Linked DNA regions of Homo sapiens: region 1 is linked to region 2. Evidence: fine-mapped expression QTL. A gene starts in region 2. The other region holds a variant in brackets. All regions are shown on one strand. Distances are between the middles of the regions.

Region 1 (15,564 bases), 86 kb before region 2:
TATGAACTTGGGTGGCAGTAAACTGGCTGAGTCTAGTTTTCCATGAACAGCCAGGGCCAGTTTGTTATATGATCAAGGGGGTGTTTTTCCTCAAAGGCAGCACGGGACTGGCAGAAGCTCAGTGAGAGGCTGGTTGAATAGCTCTGTGTTCTTGCCTGGGCCGCTCTGCCCATGAGGCTGGGACCATGGAGGGAGCCTGGCCTGGTGGTTCAGTGTCTATGTCTGTGTCTGGGGTGGGGGTTAGCAGATAAACACAAGATGTATTTGGGACATACTTACACTAAAATATTATTCACTGTTTATCTGAAATTCATATTTAACTGGGCAGCCTATATATTTGCTAAAATCTGGCAACCCTAGACTGGGCAAATCATACCACCTCGTGGAGCATCAGTTTGCTAATTTGAAAAATTAGGCTAAGCCACCCTCCTTAGGAATACTGTGTAAATCAGTAATTCATCTACTCCTGGAGTCTGGTTTGGCTCAGCTGACCTGAGCACCCTGGCTTCTCCACCTCTGGCTCCCCACCCTCTCTTTCCTCCGTAGTTTCCCAGGCCTTGAGGGCTGCTTGCTAGGCCTAATGGAGGGGTGAGCTGATTGCTGCATCTGGAAGCCTTTTCCCAGAGCCTGACCTTGAAAATCCAGGCCCAGCTGGACCCACCCAGCACTTAATGACTACCAGTACGGAGGCCCCACTTCTTGGTGTTTGCATGAAGCAGCCCAGGACCTGTGAGGCTAAGAGGAGGATTAGCAATTGTTTCCCTCATGATTTTATTGTCTCCTGGGGACCCTGCTTTGGGCGGTCTGGATGTCTGCCTTGGGCCTAGTTTGAGGCGCCCCGAAGGTGGAGCCATCTTGGTCTCGTAATTTGCTCTTCCCTGCCCCCCAAGAGGGAAGCCAGAGCTAGCGGGGCCAGCACTGCTCAGGAGGCAAGGTGGCCTACCTGTCGCACACCCGGAGGAGGAAATCATTGACCAGGCTCTCGTGCCGGCTGCAGATGCTTCTCTGGAAGGCACTCTTGAGCCAGTCCTCAATGCTGCACACCTGCACGCGGCTGGAGTGCCAGCAGATGGAGAGGCTGCGGAGTGCCGGGCCCAGGAGGAAGTTGTCCTTCTGGAGTTCAGTGAGGGAACGGAAGTGCAGCAGGGACCAGAGTGCGGGGTCCTCAAACACGTCGTGGAGCTGGGAGCAGGTCCTGGCAAGGCTCTTCCTGCTGTCCTTGTCTAGGAAGGAGAAGAGGTGCAGCAGGCACTCCCGGTTGAGCTGGGTTATGTGCATGGTGAGCAGTGGCCACATGTGAGTGCAGCTGCAGCCGGGGGACGGCTGACCTGCCTCCTCTCCTCCTCCCCGACTCTGGGCCGGTGGACATATATGGTTGAGGAATGGTGTTTATTTTTGGCTAACAACTGGTGCTGAAGCTCTGCGGAGGGGTGAGGGAAGAAAAGCCAGGACCCAGACACATGTGCGGCAGTCTGTGGTTCGGCTTATGTTCAGAGGGATTGGAGGTCCTGGCAGAAAAGGAGCCTATTGAAGTTACTTTCCTTAAAAGGGATTTTTTTTTTCCCTTTAGCTGACAATGGTGTTTAGCAGTGAGCACTTTTGGCTTTTCCCAAGGCGTTTTCATTGGCAGTGGTGGCGGCCAGGCCAGCTCTGTCTGGCTTTGCAGTCTGTACTTAGGGGGAAGGAGTGTAATTGTAAATGTTAACTGTTTTGATTTTCTAGTACATCAGTGTGAATCTTTTGCTCCACCCTTACTAGGAAGAAACCTGTTGCGTGTGGAGAGCTAAGGGTGACGGTTGTGAGTTGTGAGCAGAGTCCATGGCTGCTGCCTCATTCCTGTTATTTTTGTGCCATAGAGTAATTGTCTCCAGGCTAGGCTGGTTGGCCTTCAAGCCCTGCTGCCTGCCACTAGGCAGGGGGATTTTCCTGGGCCTCCCCAACAGCTAGATTTTTACCCTGAGTTGTTTCATAAAAGAATTTTACTGAAGTAGCTGCTTTCCAAAGTTGTGTGTCTGTGTTTTATGTTTTATTGGTGCTTTGTTGTTGTTGTTGTTGTTTTTGTAGTTTTGGTCAAGCAGTACTTTCTGTGTTTTAAATTTAAATTTACTTGGCTTTACATTTTCTCACTGATAAGGCCTTGTACTATGTATAACCTGTACTTCCCAAAATGTCAGGATGGATGAGGTAGCTCTTAATGTGAAACTGCTTGAAACAATTTTAAGTTCAGTATTTTAGTCCATCTTTGCCTTTAAGTTGACCACACACCATCCATTCTATGAGTGCCCTCCGTTCCCTCTTGGAGAAGCCAGTGGGCCACCCCTGCCCTCTCTGACTCAACTCTAGGCAAGGTGCCTGGAGGTACTATCCGTGAAGCTCCCCCTTCCTGAGTACCCGAGGCTTCACGATATGGCAGACCCGTTTCCTCATGCTGCTTCACTCCCAAACCCAGGACCCAACCTTAACTCTCCTGCTTTGAATCCCAGTCGTTGTTTTTTGGTTTGCTTGGGGGATGCTGATATGGTGCAGCTGTATAGGCCACGTTCTGCCTAGGCAATAGTGAGAAGAGAATGGTTTTTCCTCTGCCAGCCCAGGGACCACCACCTCAGTGGTTACTTCTGTTTGTTCTCCCATTTGGAATAAGAGGGAATGGGAATCCTTGTGTTTTCCCATAGACACAAATGAAGCAGCCTATGCTGAACCCACTTCTGGAACTAAGGTTTGGTCAGGGCTGGTGCAGCTTTGCCTTTAAAGCAGAAGGCAGTCAAGCAAAGAAGGAAGTAGCCATTGTCAGTGGCTTTCCTGAGAAGCCAGCCTCAGCTGGTGCCCCTGTGCCTCCATTACTCCACCATGCCAAGATGAAGTACAGTAGGGGGTTCTCTTAAAAACAAACCAAGGAGGTCGAAAGGAAGCATTTCCCAAGGAAGGGGAGCAAGATACTGCTGCTATTTCAAGCTCATCAATGTAGTTCTGAATTATAGCTGACACCCTAATTTAGGCTCTGTCTAGGTGTACTTCTCCACTTAAAATGGATGCTGCAAAACCACAGGTGGTGTTATTAGAAAGCCACATTATCTCCACTTTCCCTCCCCAATCCTCCTCAAACCAATGCTTTTCAGAGGGTTTGACCCTTAGGAATAGGTGGTTCTTTCCACTTCTTGCAAGGCCAGAGTGGTACTTGTGCCTTCCACTGAGTAAGTGTCACTGTGCTTCAGCATGGCTTCCAAGTTGCACTACTGCAGCCCAGCTGGAATGGCAAAAGATTGGCAGGGAGAACATTTAGAGCATTGCCCCTCTGCTGTTCCTCCAGGTAGGCTGCAGGAAGCATCCTAGACTACCAGGGCCAGGGGGAATGTGCTCCTGCATGCTGCAGAGGGTCTGAGGCACAGCCAGGAGATGACGAAGCTCTGCCCCTTTGGGCTTGTCCAGAGCTATGCTGTTTGGCAGCAGTGACAGCAACCACGCAGCCTCTGACCAGCACAGCTGCCAAAAGAATGTGCCCTACGGAACAAGGATGCATAACAATTTGAGCTGCAGGCACCTGTGTCTTCAATTTTAGAAGACTGACAAGAACAGGCAAAGGATGACTGTGGAAACAGGGTTCTGTCTGCAGGAGGCATGGGGGCAGGGAAGTAGTCTATAGGAACTTACTGTAAACAGGATGTTTATTTAAAAGCACTTATTTGCCTGTTTTACCTTAAAAGATGACCAGTATCCTTTGCTCAGAGCCCCAAAACTAGTGCCTCAGGGTAGAGTCTAGCTCTAAAGGGGAAGGGAAGGGGCCTCATTTTTATAAGATCAATAGTCACAAGAGACTGAGGGTGATTTCACTGGGCAAGGCCGAGTGGGACCTCAGGCACCTGACTGCAGGCACTCATCTCCAGGCCATCACTTTGCCCATACAGGTCACTTCATCCTGGCCCAGGTACTGCAGCTCCAAATCGTGGGGATTCTGTAAGAGCTTGCTACCTGTTGACTGAGGAGGCCCACGAGTTGAGTAAGTACATCATCATTTATGTGGCTCTACTGAAAAAAGGTGTTCAGAAATAAGTCAAAAGGAAAGAGAACAGACTT[T/G]TAATGATATTTTTAAAAACAGTTCAGGTTGGTGAAGCAGAAAAGGGATGTGATTACAATTTAAATGAATCAGTCACTTGCACAATTAATCCTCTTGGCATCATACAAACTGGGTTTTAATGGCAAATGATGACATCATAGCATGACCAACACTCATGGAAGGCAGTCTAGAGTCCATCACGCTCACACCTGAGGGGGAAGGCACTGCACCCACTGACGAGACGCAGAGACCTTGGACTACAGATGACACCACATGCCCACTTCTCCTTCCTCACCTTCCTATGGCTACTCCTAGTCACCTGGGACCCAGGCCTTGGCTGCAGGAACAGACTTTTTCCATCGGCTTTTCCAGGGCCCAGGTGAAGAGGCCACTTCAGCAACAGAGGGTACAGGAGAGAGTTTAGGGGCTGGTGGAGATTAAAGTGGGATAAGTGTATCTAAATAGACTTATGTACACTAAACCAATGAAGGAGAGGTTTGGCTTTAAGAAATAAATATGCCCCCAACCCCAGAAACCAAGCTGCTGAGTAGGTTCCACAGGCGAGATACACATTTAACACTCACCCCGGGCCAGTACACTTGACTGGTTTAATTCTAGTACATCTGTCATCACTATACACTGAGTAGAATACAGTGGATAAGCAAAGGTTTCTCCACCATGGAGAGAGATTTGTGTTGCCACAAACTGTTTCTGTCACCCACCCGTGTGGGGACTTCTGAGAAAGTTTTCTTGTTCCAAGGAGCCATGTGACTCAGCGCGAGGCCCTGCCTCAGCAGAAGCTCTGAGCCAGAAGCCACATATATTGCTGGAGACAACATGGCACAAGGGAAAAGCCCTGAAGAGGACAAAAGATCAGCTTTCAAAATAGGTGTGGTAAGGCTGCACAGTTAAAAATGAAAACACAAATAAGCACATTTACATCACTGCTGTTCAAGTGCACAATTGAGATGGATCCAATCACTTTTCTAAAGAATCTTCACACCATTCAAACGTTTCTGTTCAAGTAAAACCAACCAATAAAAACAAATTCAGAGAGAAGACGTGTTCATCTCTTAAGCCAACAGCATCACCTGTCTGAAGACCACTCTGCCCGACAAAGTAGTCCAACGTGTTGCTGAAGTTCCATTTGGTATAAAAATACAGCTTTTTTTCACCATCAACTCTGCCCAGGCCTTTACTGTTTAACAGCTGCCCATTCAGAGAGACTGAAGATCGAAGTATCAATGTTAGAGGTTACAGCTGTCTACCTTCTAAGCAAAAGAGCCCGGATTCATAGGAGATACTTTGCAAGATCAAAGGAGACTCACATTTCAGGTTGAATTAGATGTGATGTTAATGTGTGATACATCAGATCAGGTGGAGCTGTCATTTTTGTAGATCAGAACTCATCAAATAGCAGGGTTTCATACAGTTTAACCTAATATAATTTAGCATTGTAAATTAATTTAAGCACACATCTCCCTATTATCTTTTAGGACTCAAAGTTGTAAGACCTAAACATGATGGCAAAGTTTTATTCTTTGGAGTGAAAATTTAGACCAGCATTGTCCTACGCCGTATGTGGGTGCTGAGCACTTGAAATGTGGCTAGTGTGACTGAAGGCACTGAGTTTCTAATTTAAATTTCAGTCACATGTGGCTAGGGGCCATTGTACTGGATGATATAAGTTTACACATAATTGTAATTTGCTCCTTGTCATGTTAAAGTGTTTAGCAGATGTGTTCTGGGAAGATGTGGGATTTATCCAGTTAATATTAAAATGGAAATGGAGCTACATCTGCTCCCACAACTTCAGATATCCAACCTGAGGGAAAGCCACCAGACTGTTTTTATATCATAAACTTAAAAAAAAAAAAAGGTCAAGATGTTTTTAATAGAACAGGCTGGGCGTGGTGGCTCATGCCTGTAATGCTAGCACCTTGGGAAGCCAAGGTGGGTGGATCACTTGAGCCCAGGAGTGCAAGACCAGCCTGGGCAACGTGGTGAAACCCCATCTCTAGTAAAAATATTAAAAATTAGCTGGGTGTGGTGGTGCCAGCTACTTCGAGGCTGAAGTGGGAGGATCGCTTGAGCCTGGGAGGTTGAGGCTACAGTGAGCTGTGATCATGCCACACTGCACTCCAGCCTGAGGGACAGAGTAAGACTCCATTAAAAAAAAAAAAAAAAAATTGCCAGAAAGTCTCGTTGGCTTAACACAAGATACATTTTGTCCCTTGTGGAGAATTGGTAGGCTATGTCTACCAACCCCCACCGCCCCCAACCAAAAAAAAGAAAAAAAAAAAACCACCACAGGACTGTCTTAGAACACTTGTAGAAACCACAACTGCTTTCTTTAAATGGGATTCTGGTTCCAAATTTGAATCTTTGAGTTAAATCTGTTTTTTAAAAACAAAACTGTCTGGGCGTGATGGCTCACGCCTGTAATCTCAGCACTTTGGGAGGCTGAGGCAGGCGGATCACCTGAGGTCAGGAGGGAGGTTGAGACCACCCTAGCCAACATGGTAAACCCCCGTCTTTACTAAAAATACAAAAAAAAAATTAGCCAGGTGTAGTGGTGGGCACCTGTAATCCCAGCTACTCAGGAGGTTGAGGCAGGAGAATTGCTACTCGGGAGGCCGAGGTTGCAATGAGCTGAGATCGTGCCACTGCACTCCAGCCTGGGCAACAGAGAGAGACTCTTGTCTCCAAAAACCCCCAAAAAACAAAACGAAAACTCCACTTACTTACTCCAACAGTATTTTCAACTTGTCCTATCAATCAGGATAGGCCAGAGAGAGGTGTTAAAACCCAGAGCAGCGAAGATTCTAAATTTCCTCCTGTGGAAGCACACCCCCCAGTGATAAACTGAAGTGCGGGTGATGATCCAAGTAAATCCCAGAGGGTCACACCTCAGACTCAGATGCCAAACACAAGCAGTAAGTAAGTCTATAATGGACATGTCGTGACTTCCAGTGGTACAACTAAGGGGGAATGAGATACTGATTCAAAAGGAGGCAGACGCCATGGCTTTACCTCACTGGTAACACCTATACCATGTCAGTGAGTCACAGCATTTTTTTTAAACATTACATGTATTTGGTCTTTACTCCCATCTTACCTCCCCGCAAACAAGTATGCCCCAAAACCAAAAAAACCAACAAAGAGAGTAATTCTTGTATTTGCAGGACAAGTACAACTGAACCAACAAATTTATTTAGTTAGTGCTGATAAAGACAGCAGCCTTGAGAGACAAGCAGTAATTACCTGGTCTACTTAATGATGCCCTTTGTTATATTTTACAGGCAAAAAGAATGATTCCTCAGCAGTCATTGTGAAATTTTGTGGGCCACAAGTATTGTGCACACATGATCCTTGATTTAGAGTCAACCTGATGTCCATTATAGCTGTGGAAAGGCAGCAGGCAGTTGTGTCGCTCTTCACAATAAGGAACACATCTTGCTTTCAGCATGTGAGAGGAACAAAAGCATTGATGTAAATGTGCCTCAAAGTGAGAACTGAAAACATTAACATAAAATAAAAAAGTCAAATAAGACTAAGTTCTTACAACTACCTATAAAAATTGAATTATTACAACTAAAGCAGCAAATCAAAACATCTGCTGAGGTTTTCTGGTAGAACAACAACAAAATTAGTTGGTGCCCATGTTCAGTAAGTCACTACCATTGACAAAACTAAATCCAAAATAGGAAATTGAAAAGTGCATAATGAAATTAAATCTTGTATCAAGTATTTGTGGAAAACTGGAAATGTTTCTCTGGTATGGTTGGTGAATGATGATTTGGAGGAGGTATTAAAGTTTATCCGATCCAGCTTTGGCCTGGTGTTCCACGTAGAAAAGGATGTAGGCCTTCGCCTTCACCACAGTCTCCTCGTCAGTCAGTGTTACAGTACTGTCATTGAAGTGGAACCAGCGGCCTTCGTGAGTTGCGTATGCTGTGTAATGTCCAGAACCAACCCTGTAAAGGCAAAAGACCAAAGGAAAAAAGAACCTCAGAAATCACAAAAAGACCTGTACAACTATATAATGTTAGATTTAAATTTTAATAAGAATACATCCTAGACTTTTGATTTAAGATGCTTGTTAAATTAATGTTTTTACCTTCCTCCAAACTGACCAGAAATCGAGGGTTTGCTAGAACACAAAGCAGATGGCCCTGGACTAATGGAGAAAACAGAGATGAGGAACTCGCAACCTAACAAGCACAGGTCAAAGCCTACGGAAACATGGAAAACTAGGTACCAGGTTTTCCCATCAGAATCTTAGGAAAAAACTAAGCTTAACAAAGAAGGGCACCCTTCCCTGACACCGTGGTCATCAGGGGCTCTACCCTATCAGCATGACCCACCCACTCACACACACAACCCTGGAGTCAGTCCTCCAAGTCAGACGGAAGGCCTGCAGCTAGAACAGACCTTTGTAGGTGCCAGGAAAACCCTATTTAAATAATAAAGATCCATCTCATCATTTACTATGATTCCAAATAAACCACCAAAACCAAATTTTAAAAACAAGCCTTTTGCACGCCTACAAAATCACATTTTTGAGGGGAAAGAAATACCGGGAAGAACAAGCAAGGCAATCAACCCTGAGGAATTGAATGCAGAAAACCTAAGAGAACTTTACATTTTTAAATTAGTGCTAATAGTTTCAAAAAGATAGTGCAATCATAAAACAAGAATAGGCTGTTACGAAAAAGTTGTCAGAAAAATGTGACTGATTTAATATAAATATTTTATGGAGGAGCTTATCTTTTATTTGGATACAGATGAAACCCAAATTGGTGATTTGGAAAAGTAGGCCATGGCAGTCTTTAGAAACACAGACAGAAATCATTAGAGTATTTAAGACATGTGGAAGGGAGATCCAGGAAATTCACTATGCATATAATAGGGGTACAGAGAACAAATGATTTCAGACCTACAGTATAGAGAGTTTCATGAGCTGAAGGCACCAAATTAAAAGTGTCCCTACCAACTACCAAGCAGGAATACACTCCAAGGAGAAAAAAGCCAGGTGCCTGTAAAGTAGTGAGAATCAGACTTGTCATTCATAACACTATGTGAGTGTAGACGTTACTTTATCACAGCTCTGCGGGAAAAGGATTTTCAACATGGATAGTCGTCTGCCCACATATAGTAGTCTTAAGTTTGAAGGTAAAATAGCCACTCTCAAACCAAAAACCAGAAGGTTAGACCCCTCATACAAACTTTCAGGGGAAAAAATTAATGTTTTTTAACAAGACTTAAAATGAGTCTTTAAAGTAGATGATATGGAGTAAGTTATTCCAAGTAATTTCCCCTTTTGCCCCATTTAAATTTCAGTTGGTAAACGAATAAGCAACTTTGGAGTTTGTGGACAAATAAAGACTGGGTCGTAAATACTGGGTTCAAATGAACCATTCTTCATTTCACTTTTATTTACCTTCCCTTAAGCCTTCACAACATCATCTGAGGAGTACTCTTCCGCACCAAAACTGAAGGAAATTTCACCTACTTTATCTGAATCCATTTTTTAGGAAGAACTAGCAAGAGTGGTACAAAACTGCAGGTCATTGGGCTGGCCACCAGGTATTCCCACCCACCAGAAGCTGGCTGTTGTACTCACCCGGAACCATGGTGCACCACCACAGCGGCGAGGTCATACAGGCAGCTCTCCGGGCCACTGTTCTCAGGCTACAGAACAAGGAAGAAGGAGCAGTGGTCAATGACATCAGTATCTCGATGACCTCTACCCTCTCCATGTGATGACAATCTTACTGAAGAGCCATTTTTTCACCATGCTAAAAAGGTAACCACCTTACCTCTAGTAAGTAGCATTTCATGTCTAGGCCTCTCAGTGGAAATTCTACGTATGTATCAACTTTATTTCTTAAATATGCTGTCCAATGAAATCTTTTCAAATGTAAGCATAGCACCTGGAGGACAGAGATGCGGTCAAAGATTGTGAACACCTAATTTACCTTTCAGTCAAAGTTTGATACTACTATCAGTTCAGTAAATAACATTTTAGCTGCCCTATCAATCATTCTTCCATGCATACCTTATGCATTCATTCTGTAAGGGGTTTAGCTTTTACTGAAAATCCTAGAGAAAAATACAGAACAGTTCACATAGTGTAAAGTTATAGACATGGTCTTAGCAGTCAAGCACTTTCCCATTGAAATTGCTTCATAACTCAAAATTCAACACTCACCTTGGGTAGTTTTTGAATCCAAAACTTTTTTGTGGACTTTTGTTTCTTTTTGCATTTATGGCACATATATAACTCTGTCTCATCAAGTTCTTCTAAGTCGGTAAAACTGCGAAGACAATCTAAACAAATTGATTTTGGCAGCATTAAAACAAGATGCCTTTTGTAGAGGCAATGTACTGTAGAAAAAAGACCCAGGTTTAAAATCTCAGCTTTATTAGCTATACGACCTTAGAAAAGTTAACCTTTCTCAATTGCAAACTGGAGACAAAAAATAATACCTACTTTGAAGAACTATTATAAGGAAGAGAAATAATGTGTAGAGCACCTGGCATCATGCCTGACATCTGGTGATGATCAATTGTGTTGGTTTTACTATTAATGATAATTCATCTGGATAATTCTGATAAAATGGTTTCCTGATGAATTTAAAGTTTCAATTGTAGTTTTCTGTCAATATGTTACATTATACAGGACAAAGCTCCAAACTCATAAAAAAAAGTCAAATTTAGATAATTTAAAAATAAACATAGATCACAGAAGGCTACACTATCAACCTTCTCTGTCCAGACGCTGTACTCTCAGTTCCTAGATAAATCACAGCTACATTTTTTTTCATTTAAAGATGTAATTGTGTAACCTGGGGTTTAGTAAACTACAGTCCTAAAACATCCAGCCAGCCACCTGGTTTTGTAAATAAAGTTTCATTGGAACAGAGCCATGCCCACTTGTTTACATTATTGTCTGGCTGCTTTTACACTACACCAAACTGAGTCACTGGGGCAGAGACCTTATGTGGTGCAAAGCCTAAAACACTGTAAATCTTCACTTAATATCATGACAGGTTCTTGAAAATTGTGACCTTATGTGAAGCAACGATAAACCACTTTTTTCTCATCAATGTTATAACTAAACGTTAAAGGAAACTATTATTGGAGGACCTGCTGTATGTCATTTTGCTTTAAACTTGCAGTTTCCAAGAACCTACTGATGACATTAAATGAAGACTTACTGTATTTACTCTTTGGCCCCTGTGCCAATTCCTGATGCAATCAGATATTCATAAATCTATATAAAATACACGTTATTCTGTAGAAAAAATATGAATGCCTATGGACCCCACACTTGGATTTTCTCGAGTACTCAAGGAGCCAGGGTCTCTGTGCACGGCCTCTCCTAGAGTTGTGCAGTGGACAACCTGTGTGGCCATGTGCTTCTTACCAAAGATAATTCCCCTTCCTCTGCCCAGAAGTAGCCATTATCCTGACTTTTATGTCATTTGTCTTTATAGAACATGTATGTATCTTTAAATAATATATTAAAGTTGGGTAGCAAGCAGAAACCTAGCTGTGTACAGAAAAGCGCTCTTGTCTCTGTACTCAAGTTTCCAAGCCATAGTCAGCCTTTGTGTCCGCGACAGTAGCAGACAGCGCCCCTTCAGGGAAAGTTAGTGGAGGCAAGGTGTGGCAGAGGACTAGACAGTCTTGAATATGCCTTTGTTGCCTGATCCTAGTACCTAGAAGGCACATTCCTATGCCTGCCTCCCTACAACTCAATTCTCGCCTCCCTGCAACTCAATTCAATTCTCACTTCTTTGAGACTTTCTCAACCTCCAGTGGACAGTTAACCATTCTTTCCTCAATTTCCCACAAATACTACATTGCCAACCTGCTCAACCTGCTATTTTATGTCAGTGATGGTTCCTGGGAAAGGATGTATTATATTTTGACATTACAATTCCTGAAGCAAGTCTCAGACATTACAACCAAACTTGCAAATAGAGTGATGCTGTTCTCAGGAGCCTCCCAAGTCCTACATCTCTGGCTACAAAGAAAGAGCACTGACTACACAGCAGACTGGCTGGCTGGCACTAATAATCCCTTCAGACTGATCACTATGGTGCTTGTGAGCTCTGCAGCTGAAGTCATGGGTGCTTTCTTCAGCAAGTATTTGTTACATCATGTAAAAAGCTATGGCCTTGGCGGGGACAGCGGGGGTCATAGGGAGAATAAGAAATAAGGAAAGGAAACACAGAATTTTCCACATTTAAAATCATCATTTGAACACTCAAACTAGAAAAAAGGAGAACTTCAACATGACAAAGGCCATATATGAAAACCCACAGTGAATATCACACTCAATGGTGAAAGACTGAAAGCTTTGCCTCCAAGATCAGGAAGACAAGGATGCTCACTTTTGCCACTTCTGTTCAACATAATATTGGAAGTTTTAGCTAAAGCAATCAGGCAAGAAAAAAGCATCCAAAATGAAAAGGAAAAAGTATAATTATCTCTGCTGACAGATCACATGATCTCATGTAAAACCCTACAGTTAAAAAGTTAACTACCTGAAAGCTATAAAATGTTGCTGAAAGAAATTTTAAAAGACATAAAGACATCCTGTATTCATGGATAGGAAGACTCACTATTGATGTCAGTTTTATTCTATATTGATGTCAACTTCATCTATAGATTCAGTGCAATCTCAAACCAGTAAATTATTTTGTGGATGGTGACAAAATTACTCTAAAGTTTATTATGGAATGGCAAAAGACCAAGAATAGCAAATACAACATTGAAGAAGAACAAAATTGAAAGACATTCACATGCCAAAAAAAAAAAAAAAATTCTAGACACAGACTTTTATACCCTCCACAAAAACAAATAAAGTGGACTGAAGGTATAAAACTTTTAGAAGATAACATAGGAAAAAATCCAGATGACCTTGCATTTGGCAATGGCTTTTTAGATGCAACACCAAAGGCACAATCCATGAAAGAAGGATTTATAAGTTGGACTTCATTAAAATTAAAAATTTTTGCTCTGTAAAAGATACTGTCAAGGGAATGAAAAGACAGGATACAAAATCAACACACAAAAATTAGCTGCATTTCTATACACTAACAATGTATTCATTGTTAGGTATTTCCAAAAACGAAATTAACATAATTCCATTTATAGTAGCATCAAAAAGAATAAAGTACTTAGGAATACATTTAAGGAGACAAAAGACTTATACCTGAAAACTACAAAACATTGCTGAAAGAAATTTTTAAAGACATCCTGCATTCATAGACTGGAAGACTTGATGTTGTTAACATGATTATTACTACCCAAAGCAATCTACAGATCCAATGCAATTCTTCTCAAAATCCCAATAGAAATTTCTGCAGAAATAGAAAACCCATCCTGAAACTCACATGGACTCTCAAGGAATCCTGAATAGCCAAAACAATTTTGAAAAAGAACAACAAAGTTATAGGACTCATACTTTCAATTTTAAAACTTACTACAAAGGTATAGTAATCAAAACAGGATGGCACTGGCATAAGGACAGACATACAGACCAATGAAAAAAACTCTTACTATATAGTCAACTGATTTTTGACAAGAATGACAAGACTACTCAATGGGGAAAGGACAATCTTTTCAAAAGATGGTGCTGGGGAAACTAGGTATCAACATGCAGAAGAATTAAGTTGGACTCTTACACCATATACAAAAATTTAAATAGATCAAAGGTCTTAAACATAAGTCTTAAAACTATAAAACTCTTAGAAGAAAATGTAGGGGAAAAGCTTCATGACATTAGATTTGGCAATGATTTTGATATGACACCCAAAGCACAGGCAACAAAAGAAAAAATAGATAAGCTGAACTTTATCAAAATTAAAAAATTGTGTATTGAGGGATACTATAAAGAGAACCACAGAATGGGAGAAAAATATTTGCAAATTATGTATCTGGATAAGGGATTAATGGCCACAATATATGAAGAACTCCTAAAACTCAGCAACAAACTGATTCAAAAATGGGGAAAGGACTTTAATAGACTTTTCTCCAAAGAGGCACAAATGACCAACAGACACATAAAAAGATGCTCAACATCACAATTACTAGGGAAATGCAAATCAAAACCATAGTGAGATACTACTTCACAGTTACTAGGATGGCTGTTATTTAAAAGACAAAAACAAAAGCAGAAAATAACGTGTTAGCTAGCAAGTGGAGAAATTAAAACCTTTGTACCGGCTGGGTGCGGTGCCTCACACCTGTAATCCCAGCACTTTGGGAGGCCGAGGCGGGTAGATCACGAGGTCAGGAGGATCGAGACCATCATGGCTAACACAGTGAAACCCCATCTCTACTAAAAATACAAAAAATTAGCCGGGCATGGTGGCGGGTGCCTGTAGTCCCAGCTACTAGGGAGGCTGAGGCAGGAGAATGGCGTGAACCTGGGAGGTGGAGGTTGCAGCGAGCTGAGATCATGCCACTGCACTCCAGCCTGCGCGACAGAGCGAGACTCCATCTCAAAAAAAAAAAAAAAAAAAAAAACAAAACCGTTGTACCTTGCTGGTGGGAATGTAAAATGGTACAGCCACTGTGGAAAAGTTTGGCAGTACTTCCGAAAGTTAAACAGAATTATGATTCAGCGATTCCACTCTTAGGTATATACCCAAAAGAACTGGAAGCAGGAACTCAGATACTTCTACACCAGTGTTCATAGCAGCATTATTTATAATAGCCAAAAGGTGGGAAAAACCCAAGTGTCGTCAACAGATGAATGGATAAACAGAATGTAGTCTATACATACCAGAGAATATTAAGCCTCAAAAAGGAAGTAAATTCTGAGACATGCTTACAACATGGATGACCCCTGAATATACACTAAGTTAAGCCAATCACAAAAGGATAAATATAGTATGATTCCACTTATATGAGGTGCCTAGAATAGACAAATTCATAGAGGATACAATAAGAGTTACTGGGAACAAGAGAGGAAAAGTAATGAGTTACTGTTTAATGGGTACAGAGTTTCTGTTTAGGATGACAAAAATTTTTACAAGTAGTAATGGTTGTATAATATTTTGGGTGTGCTTAATGCCACTGAATTACACACTTAAGACACTTAAAATGTTACATTTTATTCTATGTATATTTTACCACAATTTTTTAAAAAATTGTTTTAAGAGACAAGGTCTTCTTCCTCTGTCATGCAGGCTGGAGTATAAAATAGCTCACTGAAGCCTCAAACTCCTGGGCTCAAGCAATCCTCCCCAGTAGCTGAGATTACAGGCATGAGCCACACTGTGCCTAGCTCATTTTTTTTAATTGACAATGTCTGCTTGAAACTTTCACAGGCAAATAAGAAGGCAGGGAGAGTATGACTCTGAAATACTGTCACTCCAGCCTCTCCATCCCATTAGCCAGATGGTTTATGATTCACCAGCAAGACATTGTTGCCTGTGCTACCTAGCCACACAACACTGAGAAGCAGAAATGCCTCAACAGCAGAGAAGCCT
Region 2 (12,882 bases):
GGAAAAACTACAAGGATGAATAATTAATTAAATTAGTCAGGATTAAATGCTAGCAAACTGCTTTGAAGTTACTTTATGTTGTTCTCAGTTATCTTCCTACTCAGTAAAACTAATAGATGAGAAAACATCTGGAATTACTATAGATAATCACATCTGCAGACTCACAGCAGTTAAAAAGACGATCTCTACAAATTTCTAAGCCAAAGTTCATTCAACGACCCCAAAGATTTTAAGATACAACCACAATGAACAATTTTAGGTGAATTTCTTTTCAGTCTCAAGGACACCTATTCTTACCTACATTCTCAAAAGAAACCACTACACAGAAATCTCAGAGCATCTTGAGGGGTCTTGGCACAAGACAATTCTAGGTAAGATGAACAAGCTGTTACTGTTGTTAATGCTATTCTCAGCATTCTAAACTGTCAATCAAGGTAAGCTTAATCACAAACACACCCTCCAAAAAGTACTAGCCCCTACTGAGAACCCATCAAAGTACTTCCTTCCAAGCCATCTGTCCAGGAAAGCTCTATTAACACACCTAGAATGCAATTGCTCTCCTGTCTAAAGAGGCAATGAATAAACATAAAATATCAAAATATGTTAAACAGCATACCTTTTCCACTTCAAACAATGATAATCTACCGACTAAATCTATTTATTTCAATGCCTTGGTTGAACACAAACCTGTATGTATGTAGGTCAGAGACTGCAGCTTAATCAAAGGAGACTAACATTTTGTTTTCAAAGAAGGAAAAATATTAAAAACAAACAAACAAGCTCAAGAAGGGGAGAAAAGCTCAAAAAGAAAAAAAACGAGCAGGTTAGGTTAGGGGAAATGTACATGTTAATCAGCTCCTGATGGAAGAGGGACTCAAATTTTAAAACAGGAATTTAAATGACTCACTGAGCTACACACTAAATTACTCACTGGTCTACTCACTGAGCTGCAAACACTATAAAAACATAAGTATTTCTAAATCTAGCTTGAAGGATCCAAAATCAATCTTTTATATTCCAGTGGAGAAGGAAATTACATACATTTCAATGAGGAAAAAGGAGGCTGTTACACGAGCCTAAGGCTAATGGTGTACAAGCAAAGAATGAGAATAAATTATTTTGAGGATAAATAACAGGAAACCACACCAAAGAGTTCGAATTCTTCCCCCAACTCCATCATTTCTTCTGCTTAGACCATGAAGGATGTTCTGTATACACTATTAAGCATATTATTAGGGAAAGAACTTCTCATCAATGTGTCAAAACTTCTTCACAACAAGTAAATGTTAGGCTCAATCTCTATACTGAAGCTTCTTTAAACAAAACACATACATGGAGCACATTCTAAATTTCACACATTTCACATCCATGAGCAATCATTTAGAGACTCTAGAAATAAGCTGAGATTGCTCTAAGATTCTGGGGGACGGGGTTGGGGAGGAATACTGCAGAAAGACTAGAAAGACATTTGACTTAAGCTTTATAAATATTACCAAAAAAGTTTAAATTCTTCAGAAGGATATATAAAACTCAAATACTACTTTTTAGAATTAATGTGAAAAAAGTATCACCTGTCCACTGATTTTTAACTACCCCATCCACATTTACAACTAAATTGTCCACCTGCCCATCTATAAATACAGACTGCCAAAAGAACACAAATTCATTGTGATAACAACACTGCAGATGGTCATTTGCTCACAATCCAGCCAACGTTTACTGACTAAAATACTGGGAGTGCGGGCTAGTGAAAGCATTCTGGGGAAAGTTCACTCTGCGTTTATTTTCAACATAAAGACCCTGCCAGACACATCTAAGTGATAGTTCCTTTATTTATCAGGCAAATATTTACTAATTGCTCTATTAAGTATTAGGCACTTAATAAAGACATCATAGAATGTTACTAAAAAGCAGTAAAAGCATTTGACCTAATGACAAGGAAATGACTGATTGTATTTAGAAAATTTAGTCCACTGGGCAAACGAGTGTTAAATGTAGGTTGTGGAGAAATACGATACAAAATAACCCATCACTCCATCAAGGTTGATTTCTTCTCTTTATCACAACCTGATCAGTCCATTACAAATTTATTACCACTGACAACCAATAATCAACACCTCATCCTACTGAATGGATCTCTTAAAAAAGGGTTTATCTCCAGTATTTTGGGTGGAATTATCTGCAGTTTTTGGTGCAAAATTGCAGAACATTTACTTGATCTACACTTACTTTTCTTGGGTAGAGTAATATGAAGGCAAGTGTGTACTGAAAACTTAAAGAGGCACTCTCAACTCATTGAAGAATTAATCAGGGAAAAATTAGCATGCCTATCCTACTAAATATCTCTAATTTAACTGGCTGTTTAACCCAAACCCTCAAGTTCAAATGCTTGGTCCTTGGCTTTCCTTAGTTATCAAAACACTTGCATTCAGGGCATCTTTTTAAACAATTTTTGTTTTTTCCCACTGGTTAAACTCTTTTACCCACAAAAATAAGGAATGCCCAAGCCTCCAACTTCTGAAAATAACATCTGGTATGTGCACATAACAAAAAGCTTGAGAGAATGCCCTTTTATTTAAAACTTTTTCATTTTAAACTAGAATCCCTTAAGCAACAATTAGACATAAATCAGCCTTTACGTTATTAGGAGATAGCTATTTTCAACATTTACCTTAAACCACATGGATGTATCTTCTAACTAGTTAGCTTCCTGTCTCTCCCCCAGCTAGATTAGACTGTTAACTTTTTTGGCAGCAAAGGACTACTAGAGCCCATGCTCTATTTCCCAGCTAATACATTTCAAAAACCTCAGGTCTCTACAGAAACATAAACGTTGGTAGCCTTAAGGATTTCTCTAATTTTTTAAAGTTATTTTGATATGAGCAGGTATCCTTAACTGTTAACTATAGCTTACACAAGTGGGTTCTCAAAGTGTGGTCCTGGACCCCTGAAAGTTTCCAGGACCCATTCAGGGGATCCAGAAGGTCAAAACAATTTTCATACATAATATTTAAGATGTTACTTTTGTTTACAGTCATTCTCTCACAAGCATGCAGTGGGGTGTTCCTGAGGCTGCATGATGTGACATCTCAAGAGACTGAATGCAGAAGCAATGTAAGAATCCAGCTGTCTTCTATAAAGCTGAACAAAGAGTTACAAAAAGGCAAAATAATGCCATTCTTCCCACTAAATTTTTGTTTTGAAAAACATTTTACATAAACTGTCAATTTATGTTATGGGTGTGGGTCTATTATTATTTGTAAGCATATTAATAAATACATATTTTAAGTTTTTCTCAGTTTTAATTTCTAATAAACATCATCAACAGATATAAGCTACACGAAGGCTCTTCAGGTGCTCAACAATTTTTAAGAGTGTAAAGGGGTCCTAAGATCAAAAAGTGTAAGAACCACTGTCATACACAATTATATAACCCAACACACAGTGCCTTCCATGGATAAGAAGCTCATGCTAATTCTGAAGTATAATTACTTCTTACTTCTTGTAATCTTGTTGAGTTCTGTATCTCCCTGTAAAGCATCATTCAGCATAAAGCCAGTCTGTTCTAGTCCCCATTTAATGGGCTTTGGATATTTAATTATTCAGAGTCCTCTTTACAAAGATGTTCTGACCTCTAATACCACCTATTACTAGAACAGTGTATACAAGTTTCTCAAAGTTTTCACAAAAAATTACCTTGTTCATCCTAACAGCAACCTGTGAAGTAAATGCAAAGTATTACCCTTTTCTTTGCAGATTATATAAGGAAACTGATACTCAAAGAAAATAGAACTATTTGTCCAATTAGGTACTGCTAACTGGTAGAACCTAGAATGTTGTGGCATTTTGCAATTTGCTTGGCTGTCTTACCGTGGTATAATTGCAAACTCGCAAAGAAAATAAGGCAAGGGCATTACTTTTATTGTCCCAGTGCCAAAACAGGGATTTTCCCCTCCTTAATAAGAACATAATCAGATTCAATACCCAGTCACAGTATTAGTCAACACATCGGCTACCCTTTTGGTCCCCTATGAAAAAAACAAAAATAAAATAAAATCAAGAGTGTGGGAGAAAAAAAATACGACTATATAACACTCCAAGATAATGAGTTAGTTAAGGACTCACAGATTCATCATTTAATCACTGAAACGACAGGCACGCAAGAACAAGATCAAGCTTAATACAATAACGCTAGATTATATCAACAAATGGATGCCAACGGGTTAAGACGGGAGGCCTACATAAAATGGGTTCAATTCAGAGTGTGGACTCACACAAAGTTGCGAAACTCGCTTTATTGGTTCTACAAATCCAAGTAAGTGACTAGACCCAGGCTTGCAAAGCTATATGTCAGACACACTTTGTTGCAAGATGCAAAGATGTCATCCTACCCCTTGAACAGAAATCACCCCACATACTAGTTTATTCTTGTTATCAGCACATCTCGTTATGCTCCATTTTAACTTATTAAGTTCCTCAAGAGATGCTCAATTTCCTGCATCTCTTTTTCACAGTCAAGTGGACTCCCTGACTGACAGAGGCAAGACTGACTCACAAGAGGGCATCTGCCACTTGCACAGTTCTTTTCCATTTTTTAGATGTATGTGCCCAGTGAAGCCATTTTTAAGTTTGATGTGATTTTACCTAAAAAATGCCAGAAGTGTGCTAATTGTCCATGTTGTCTTTCTGTAGTTTACTACAGATGAGCAAGAGCAATCCCACCATTCCCTGTGAGGTAGGCTTCTCCTAGTGTTTACTTTGGTCTTTTTTTTTTTCTTCAAATTTCTTTTGGGAAAAAAATTAAGTTACAATTATAGCACCACAGCAATGGCTACAGTTATAGCTAATGTACCACCACCAACCAATTTGTAAAGCAGTGCCATACACCTTATTTGTTGTTCTATACTCAACATCCCGACAGATTTACAGGTAAAAGCTAATTTACACAAGTTTCTGCATCCTCACAAAAGAACTGCAATACTGCTCTGTGAAACCAATTAACCGTTAATTTTCAAAGGCTTCATGCAGAAAAAGATACCTGACTTTACAAAGGCAAGCAAAGCATCAGACGTCTGAGCGCGCCAGGAAACCGCAGTTATTTCTATTCCTTATCCCAGAGTACATTTTTCTTTGTGGACCTACCGATGTTGTTTCCAAGAACATAATCACTATTTAAGTAGTAAGCTGTCAAAAGTGCTAAGGCATTCTCTAAACTATCTTCCCAGCTCCGGCCCACAATGAGACATGTCACAGCTAAATCATACCATTGCCGTTTTTCTATATTTCTTCAAATGAACTTCAGATTTCTGAAGTGCACAATTCGAATTGTACGCTATTAATATAACCCAAGATACCAGTGACCATCTCAAAGCTAATAAACAAAGACTAGCGGTGGCACCAGGGCCCTACCAGGAAGTAAGCAAAGCCGTGTGGCCGGTGCGATCCTAAGAAGTCGCTTAGAGCAGACAATGAGAGGGCACTGGGGCTTCCAAGGGGGCCAGCAGGAGTTAAAACGCTTAAGCTACTCAAAAGCCTTATATAAATCTAATAAGTGTTTCACAACACAGGAACTGGGAATCCCAACGCATTTTCGGACAACCCAAAAGGTCTGAAAAACAAACTCGAGCAGTCCCCTCCAAAGCAGCTGTTGGCTCAGCCTCCGAGCTTCTCAGCCCGCAGCCTGTTTTCAAACTTCACCATCCCTGACGGATGAAAGACCCCGACCTCCGCCGCCCGAGCTCCCAGCGCCTCTCGGGGTTTCGAGGTGCCCGAGCCTGCGGAGAAGGGAAAGGAAACCCGGGCCGGGTTCGGCGGAGGAGAGGAGCCCCGCGCGCCCCGCAGCCCAGACAAAGCTGCGCCCGGAGAGCGGCGCTCTTCCCGCCCTGTCTGCGGAGAAGCGCGGCGCGGGCCCCGCCACACGTGCGGCCGCCCCTCGGGGGCCGGACACCCGCCCCACAGGCGACCCCGCAACACGGACGGGCACAGCCCCCGGCCACGGCAGGGCGGGGCAAGGGCGCACGCAGCTGGCCAGGGTCCCCGCCTGCCGCTGCCCCCACGCGCTCGAGGCCTCCGCGGACTCCCGCCCCTCGCGGCCCTCTCCTTCGCTGGCCCGGCCGTCGGGCCTCGGGAAACAAAGGAGCCGCCGCCGCTCCCGCACGCGCCCGCCTCATCGCGTACCCTCCCCAGCCCGCCGGGCCCGGCTCGCCCTCGCCCCTCCCCGAGTCCGCGCGCCGGCCGCCTGCGGCCCCTAGACGGCAGGCCCGGCAGAGCCGCGGCCTCGGGTGCGCTGCGGGGCCGGCCCGTGGCCGCACTCACCGCTGCAGCACCAGGACGACGGGGAGCCGTTGGGGAACTTGGCTGAGTCCGGAGCAATGCAGACGCTGGAGCTCAGGTGTGGACACTCCATGGCCACGAGGAGGGCAGCTGGGAGGACTGCGGCTCCAGGACCCGGCGAGGTGGGGGCGGAGGAACTCCGGAGGCTCCGTCTGGTGTCGCTTCTAGCCGGGCGCTCGGCCGACGGCGGCTGCGTCTCGAGCCCTTGCGTCAAAGAAAGCACGGGCTTCCGGACGCCGGGTTTTCTCGCCCGCCGTCTCCCGGCGCCCCGCTCCGTAGAACGTGTAACTCCGAGATCCGGGTTCTGCAGCCACCCCTAGACTGGAGGCTTCCGCCTTTCCAGGCCGGCCCCTCCCCGCCCCGCCCCCGGGTCCGCCCCCGCCCAGCCCGCGGGGTGGGGTCCCGGCGAGCTCCAGCTGGTGGCGCAGAGTCCGGCTGTGTTCCGAAGTGACTTTCCTAGTCACGCCGCTTCCCCGGCCCCGGGAAGGGTGGGGCGCCGAGCAGGGCACCCCGGGCCGTCCGCGGCGTTTCCTGCGGTGGGCGGAGGATACTGAACCTATGTGGTGCGGACTACTCGGTGGCTTCGTGGTAAAAATCCGGCCGCTCCGCAAAGTGTAAAGAAGAACTTTAAAACCTCTCGGGCAGACAGGCACCGTGGCCCTCATTTTATACACGAAGAAACAAGCTGGGGAGGCCAAGGGCCTGGCCCCGGGGGAGGCGGGCAGCGGGTTTCATGGGTGCCAGGGCAGTCCCGCCCGACTTAGCGTTAGGCTCCTTGCGGCAGGTGCGATCCGTAGCCCTTTCTAGGTTCTGAACACGTGGCGTTAGCCAGCCACCTAGATGCTGCGTGGGTGGGCCCGCAGGGGCGCCCATGAACCCACGTTCAAATCCTGTCACTGTGACTCACCATCTGCGTTACCTCCAGCACATCGTAGGACTTTCAAGCCAGGAAGTTCAAGTGAGATAAACGTAGCCTGGGATTGCTGGGCAAGCTAAACTCCCCATTACCAGGCGATAAGAAGGGAAGGGATCTAGCATTTGTTAGATACCTAAGGTCTCCCAGCCAGGCACTTCCCATACCGCATTTAAGCCTCGCAACACCCTACCAGCTGTTACCATCCCCTTTTTACCGCAGGGGGAAACCGAGTCTGTAACTTGTTGATCTGTATGGAGATTGGATCCCTGACCCTCTGACCTCTTTTTAGTGAGGGATTAGAGAAGAGGGCAAGCCTCAAGGGGCCGCTTGGGCCGGCATACCCTGGATCGAGCCTGCGATCTCACTGGGGCACTTGAGGACGTCCGGGGCTATTACAAATATTGCTTCCAAGTTGGGGCTCCTTGTAAAACCCGGCGAAGGAGCCTCGGGGCCAGAAGGCGAGCAGGAGGAGGGGGAAGACTGATGTGGCAATCCTGCGGCCAGAGCGAGAGGAGGAAGGAAGGTCAGGAAATGATTAACCGGGCCGGGCAGTGGTTAGAGCCGGGCACCTCCCCGCAATGCAGTCCTAGAGCAGCCAGGGACGCCCCGTCAATCACTTCTTACTCCTCCCTACCTCCCACGCCACAAGTCGGCCTCTTCCGCATAGACCTCTGCCTAATGGTATCCACCCACCGGGGGCACCTCTGCTCATCCTTTCCCCAGAAGTATTTCTGGGTCCTCAAAGATCTGTCCTTTTCCAAGTGGTATTTGCTGTTAGAGCAAGCCTCGGCCTGGGATTTTTATGGCAGTGATGCGTTGTGGAAAGTGCGTCTGCCTAGGAAGGCAGGCCGGCATGCTTTCAAATCTTAGCTCTGCTGCCTACTTGACGGCCAGGCTTAGCAAGCGTCTCTAGCCGTTCCAAGCCTTTTCTAGATCTGTAAAACTGGAAGAAGAATACTTGTCTCGCAAGGAACATGTGAGAATTCATGAAAATTGCCACCACATACTAGGTGGCCAATAAATTATAACTTTGTATTTGTTTTTACTGACACTAGATGAGAGCTGCTTCCCTGGGAAGCGGGAGGAGGAGAAACAATAATATCTGCCCTTGGCTCAAGTTCTTCCACCCATCTCTCCATGTCAACCTATTTGTCTTTAAGGCCTTGCTCCACCAACCTTCTGTTTCCTCCGGACACCCACCCCCACTTAGCATCCATAACCCCTTGTTCGGCCCTGGAGCATGACCTCACTCAGGCCATGCTTCATACTGGTATGTAATATTTCTTCACCCTCTCAGAGACTCCGTTTCCTAATCCCCTAGACTTCAGTTTAAACATCACTTCCTGAGGGAGTCTTTCCCGACCCTTTCCCACCCGCAGGGTACCTCCCAGTGTGTGATGTCCTTGTCTGCCCCAACACCGGCTTTTAAAAACACTTAAAACAAAAAACAAAACAAAAAAAAAAACAGTGTCTCCTATATTGCCCAGGCTGGTCTCGAAATCCTGGGCTCAAGAGATCCTCCCGCCTAGGCCTCCCAAAGTGCTAGGATTACGGGCATGAGTCACCGCGCCCGGCCTAAAAACACTCTTCATGCGTGTAATTATTTGTTTAATGTCTCTCTTCCTCTTGTTTGTCCATAAGGTAGCAAACAAGTCTGTCTGGTTTTCTGCTTTATTTCTAACATGCAATGTAGAACATGGAGGATGTCTGATAAGTAAGTGAATACATGACATGAACGGGTGAGTGTGCGGTATGTTAGCCATGTCTACCATGGGCAAGAGCCTAGCAGGTGGCCCAATATTTGCCAATATTTGACCCCTAGAGATGATCTCTAAATTTCCTTTCAGTTCTAGCTTTATGATTTTAACGGAATCAGGAATGTGAAAGTGCTTTGTAAGGTGTAAGCTATTTTAAGGGAAAAAAAAGTTTCCATTAGTGACTTCTCTCCCCAGCTAGAATAAAAACCCTTGGGAGCAGGGGCCCTAATTTAGTCCCGATTGTGATAGTCCCCAGAGGGCAAGCTCTATCAGGCAGTCCAGAGAAGTTGGGCAAAATCAGAGAGGCCCTCCTGGGGCGTTTGCTAGATTTCCCTAAAATAGTGAACTTTCCTGTGTCTTTGAAAGTTTCCATAATAAGAAAAGAGTGGAGAAAAAGAAACCCGCAGTGAGTAAATGAGTCAAATGGGGGAAGACCATGAGGCACACTGGGAAATCTGCCTTTTCAGTCCCTCGTTTCTTCAGCTGCATTTAATACAACATTCGCGTTTTTATTCTTGGCCCGCATCCCTCTGGCACTGAGGAGCTCTGACTTACATCCCAGGGAGCCCTGATGGTGACGAGCCAGCCTCCAGCCTCCAGCTCCCGTGCTCTTGAGTGCGCTGCTCCCGGGATTCCCCACCCAGCCCTCTGGACATCCGGGGGCGGGGAGGGAGGGTGGTTTCCGCGGCAAAACCTGCCCGAAGCGGCGGGCCTGTTCTAAAAGTTTGCATTTTTCAAAGGGGAGGAATGCAAAATTGCAACCGTACTATCAAATGTTTCTCTCCTAAAGGATAATTGTGTATATACATGGAAGTGGGGTCGGTAGTGAGGGGAGGGCAAGGTCATATATTGCAGGGGAACCACTTCAGGAAAGGTCTCAAGGTTGCCGCGATTTTCCTAAAACCTTAAACTTAGGACTTTTGGCAGAATTGATGGTCCTTAACCAACAATTACAAGGCAGACCAGGCCCTGGGGAAAACTAGCTCTGACTATCCTCACCCAGGGAAGGCTCATTGGAAACACTCCGAGAGATGGCTTAATTATTAATATTTACCATAGAGATTGTTCTAGGAGCAACGCCTCCTTGGGAAACCAAAGTTATATCAAGAGGAGGCTTGGTAAGTGTTGGGGGCAGGGAATGGGCCGCTGCCGCTCAGAGACTCTTCTGTTGCCTGGTTTAATTTTCCTAGTGGCACCTATCTAATATTTCCTTGCATGTTTACTTGCTTATCTATTGTCAGTCTCCATGAGAACAAAGATCTTGCCAGTGCTGTTGGTTGCCTGATTTCCAGCCCCTGGAATACAGCCTGGTAGGTGGCAGGCCCTCAGTAACTATTTGTTGAATGACTAAATAAATGGAGAGGGGTGGGTGTGGGCTCCAACCACCCAGCTCTCACTTCCCCACTCAGGAATACTGGTGGTGTCATTCTCCCCACTACTTCCCATTTACCCCTTTCACATCATCTCCCTGCTGGAATTCTTCAGTGGTTCCCCACCTTTTGGAAAAAATCCAAAACCCACTGCTCTCACAGGTACCTGGCCCCTCCCTTTTATTATAACTTTTTTTTTTTTAACTGTTACAGAAGTATTTCAAATAGTCCCCTCATAGAAATTGTGCTTCCTCATACCTCCGTGTCCTCCCCTGTCTGGTCCCCTTCTACTTGGTCTGCTCCTACTCCTTCCCCATGAAGCACATAGCCTCTTCCGGGAAGCCCTCCGTCACTCACCCAAGCACACTTCTCACATGGTGCTGTTATTTTCTGTTCACATTTCAGTCTGTCTTGGGAATAGGTGTTTTGTTTTTTTTTTTTCATCTGAGGATTTTCAGCACCTAGTTCAGCAATAGCAGATCTTAAAAAATTTGTCCACTGAATGTTGTTGGAAGTGCTCCTTTTTAAAGTGATTACAGCAATAATTATATGATATGGTCCCCTAAGTATTCAGAGAAAGGACCTCAACTATTTGAGAACGGAAACTTACATGTTATTGGGTCCCAACTAGGTGTCTGATACTGTGGCAACTTGTTGGGACCCAATAAATACTATGGTTTTTATTTCTTCTTTAATCCTTCCCCCCTACCAATGCAAAAACAAAAAAACAAAAACAAAAACAAAACCTTGGAGGTGGATATTATCATCTCCATTTTACTGGTGAGAGAACTAAAGTTCAAAGAATGTTAAATAATTGCACAAATTTACACAATCAGTAACTGGTCTTTTATCAAAAGAGGTAAGGTTTCACCCCTCATGCACATGGTCATGTCAATGATTTTGCAGTATTACACAGGAGAAGCCAAAGTTCCGAATAATGGAGTCATTTAGTGACCACAGGACACAGACAAGCCTCTGAGTAACTGAAGAAAGATTTATGTTCGGTGCCATTGTTGTAATTACCGCATCATCAACATATTGACTTATACTGCTTTTAACGCTTTCCTCTTTATCATTGAAATCTCCTTTTATGAAGGAGATGAGGGGGTTTTCTTGTTTAAAGACCCACTTTGCAGATAAAGCACTGACAGATTAAGCAAAACAGTGTGGCTCTAGCACCAAACAACTTTTATTTATTTATTTATTTATTTATTTTGAGACACGGTCTCTTTCGTCCTGGCTGGAGCAGGATCGCAGCTCACTGCAGCCTTGAACTCCTGGGCTCAAGCTATCCTCCTGCCTCAGCCTCCCAAGAAGCTGGAACCACAGACATGTGCCACCACACCTGGCTAATTAAAAAAAAAAATTTGTAGAGAGAGGGTCTCACTATGTTGCCCAGGTCTCCAGTGGCTCCAGCCTCAGCCTCCTGAGTTGCTGGGATTACAAGCGTGAGCCACCTTGCCCGGCCCCAAACAACTCTTTGATAGTAGATAAGTCACTTCTCTCTGGGCCCCAATCTTTCTTTCCATCTGTAAAATCGGGGGTTGAACTAAATGACCATTGAGGGCCTTTCCAGAGAGAGAATCCAGCAATCCGGTGATAGTTCACAGTCATCCAGTGACACCAGCAGAGGCAACACTGCTTTGTGTGCTGTGGAAGAGACTGCTGTTTACACCAAATGTGCTTTCTTTTCCTCTTGGTTTCACAACTCGAAATTTCTCGGCTTCCCTTGTAGCTAGGTGTGGCCATTTTAGCCAACGCTGTCTGAGCAGAAATCACAAGAAAGCCTTGGCTGGGGCTGGGCGCAGTGGCTCACGCCTGTAATCTCAGCACTTTGGGAGGCCGAGACGGGCAGATCACAAAGTCAGGAGATGGAGACCATCCTGGCCAACATGGTGAAACCCCATCTCTAATAAAAATACAAAAATTAGCTGAGTGTGGTGGCGTGCGCCTGTAATCCTAGCTACTCGGGAGGCTAAGGCAGCAGAACAACATGAACCCAAGAGGTGGAGGTTGCAGTGAGCCGAGATTGCGCCACTGCACTCCAGCCTGGGTGACAGAGTGAGACTCCATCTAAAAAAAAAAAAAAAAAAAAAGGAAAGCCTTGGCTAGGGCTGTGAACAGCTGCCCATGACAAAAATACTTCAGTGTCCAGTTTTGTTTATCAATAACACATGAAGGAAATAGGAGAAATACATTAGGCCAGGCCTAGAATGAAACAGGTCTTCTAGGCTTGTAGTCTGCCCTTCTTGTGTTCTGTCTTCGAACATTCATTTATTCGGCACATCTTGTCTGTGCCCTACCACGTGCCAGGCACTGAAGATTCAGCAGCTCAGGGCTACACGGGTCTTCCATTCTGTTGACATCTCTTTGCCACTACCAAGATGGAAAATGTTGTGGTATCACTTATTTCCCCTTGCTCATTAGTTGCCTGATTAGACATCAGAACCTCTGAGTTTCAGTCAAAGGGCTGTCTAGACTCGGAGCTTTAAGCCTTTTAATTGTG

Evidence for each region. PIP is the estimated chance that this variant, and not a neighbour inherited with it, causes the effect.
Region 1: its variant is fine-mapped to the expression of USP3 in whole blood (TOPMed, PIP 0.99).

Annotation. Positions count from the first base shown.
Region 1 is chr15:63,583,125-63,598,688 of GRCh38, reverse strand. USP3 (ubiquitin specific peptidase 3) reads right to left here. Exons shown (of 15, transcript NM_006537.4): 12 at 10,266-10,384; 13 at 9,874-9,987; 14 at 9,678-9,745; 15 at 4,056-8,028. The coding sequence ends at 7,863. FBXL22 (F-box and leucine rich repeat protein 22) reads right to left here and starts at 1,302. Exons shown (of 2, transcript NM_001367807.1): 1 at 944-1,302. The coding sequence starts at 1,296. It overlaps USP3-AS1 (USP3 antisense RNA 1), which reads left to right. Exons shown (of 3, transcript NR_034080.1): 2 at 3,903-3,994; 3 at 9,589-10,979. RefSeq lists enhancers at 3,934-3,983, 7,025-8,224. The variant T/G (reference allele first, on the strand shown) is at 4,072.
Region 2 is chr15:63,498,264-63,511,145 of GRCh38, reverse strand. USP3 (ubiquitin specific peptidase 3) reads right to left here and starts at 6,553. Exons shown (of 15, transcript NM_006537.4): 1 at 6,316-6,553. The coding sequence starts at 6,406. RefSeq lists silencers at 5,742-5,821, 5,892-6,091, 6,162-6,271, 6,622-6,961 and enhancers at 6,687-7,479, 7,952-8,001, 7,480-8,273.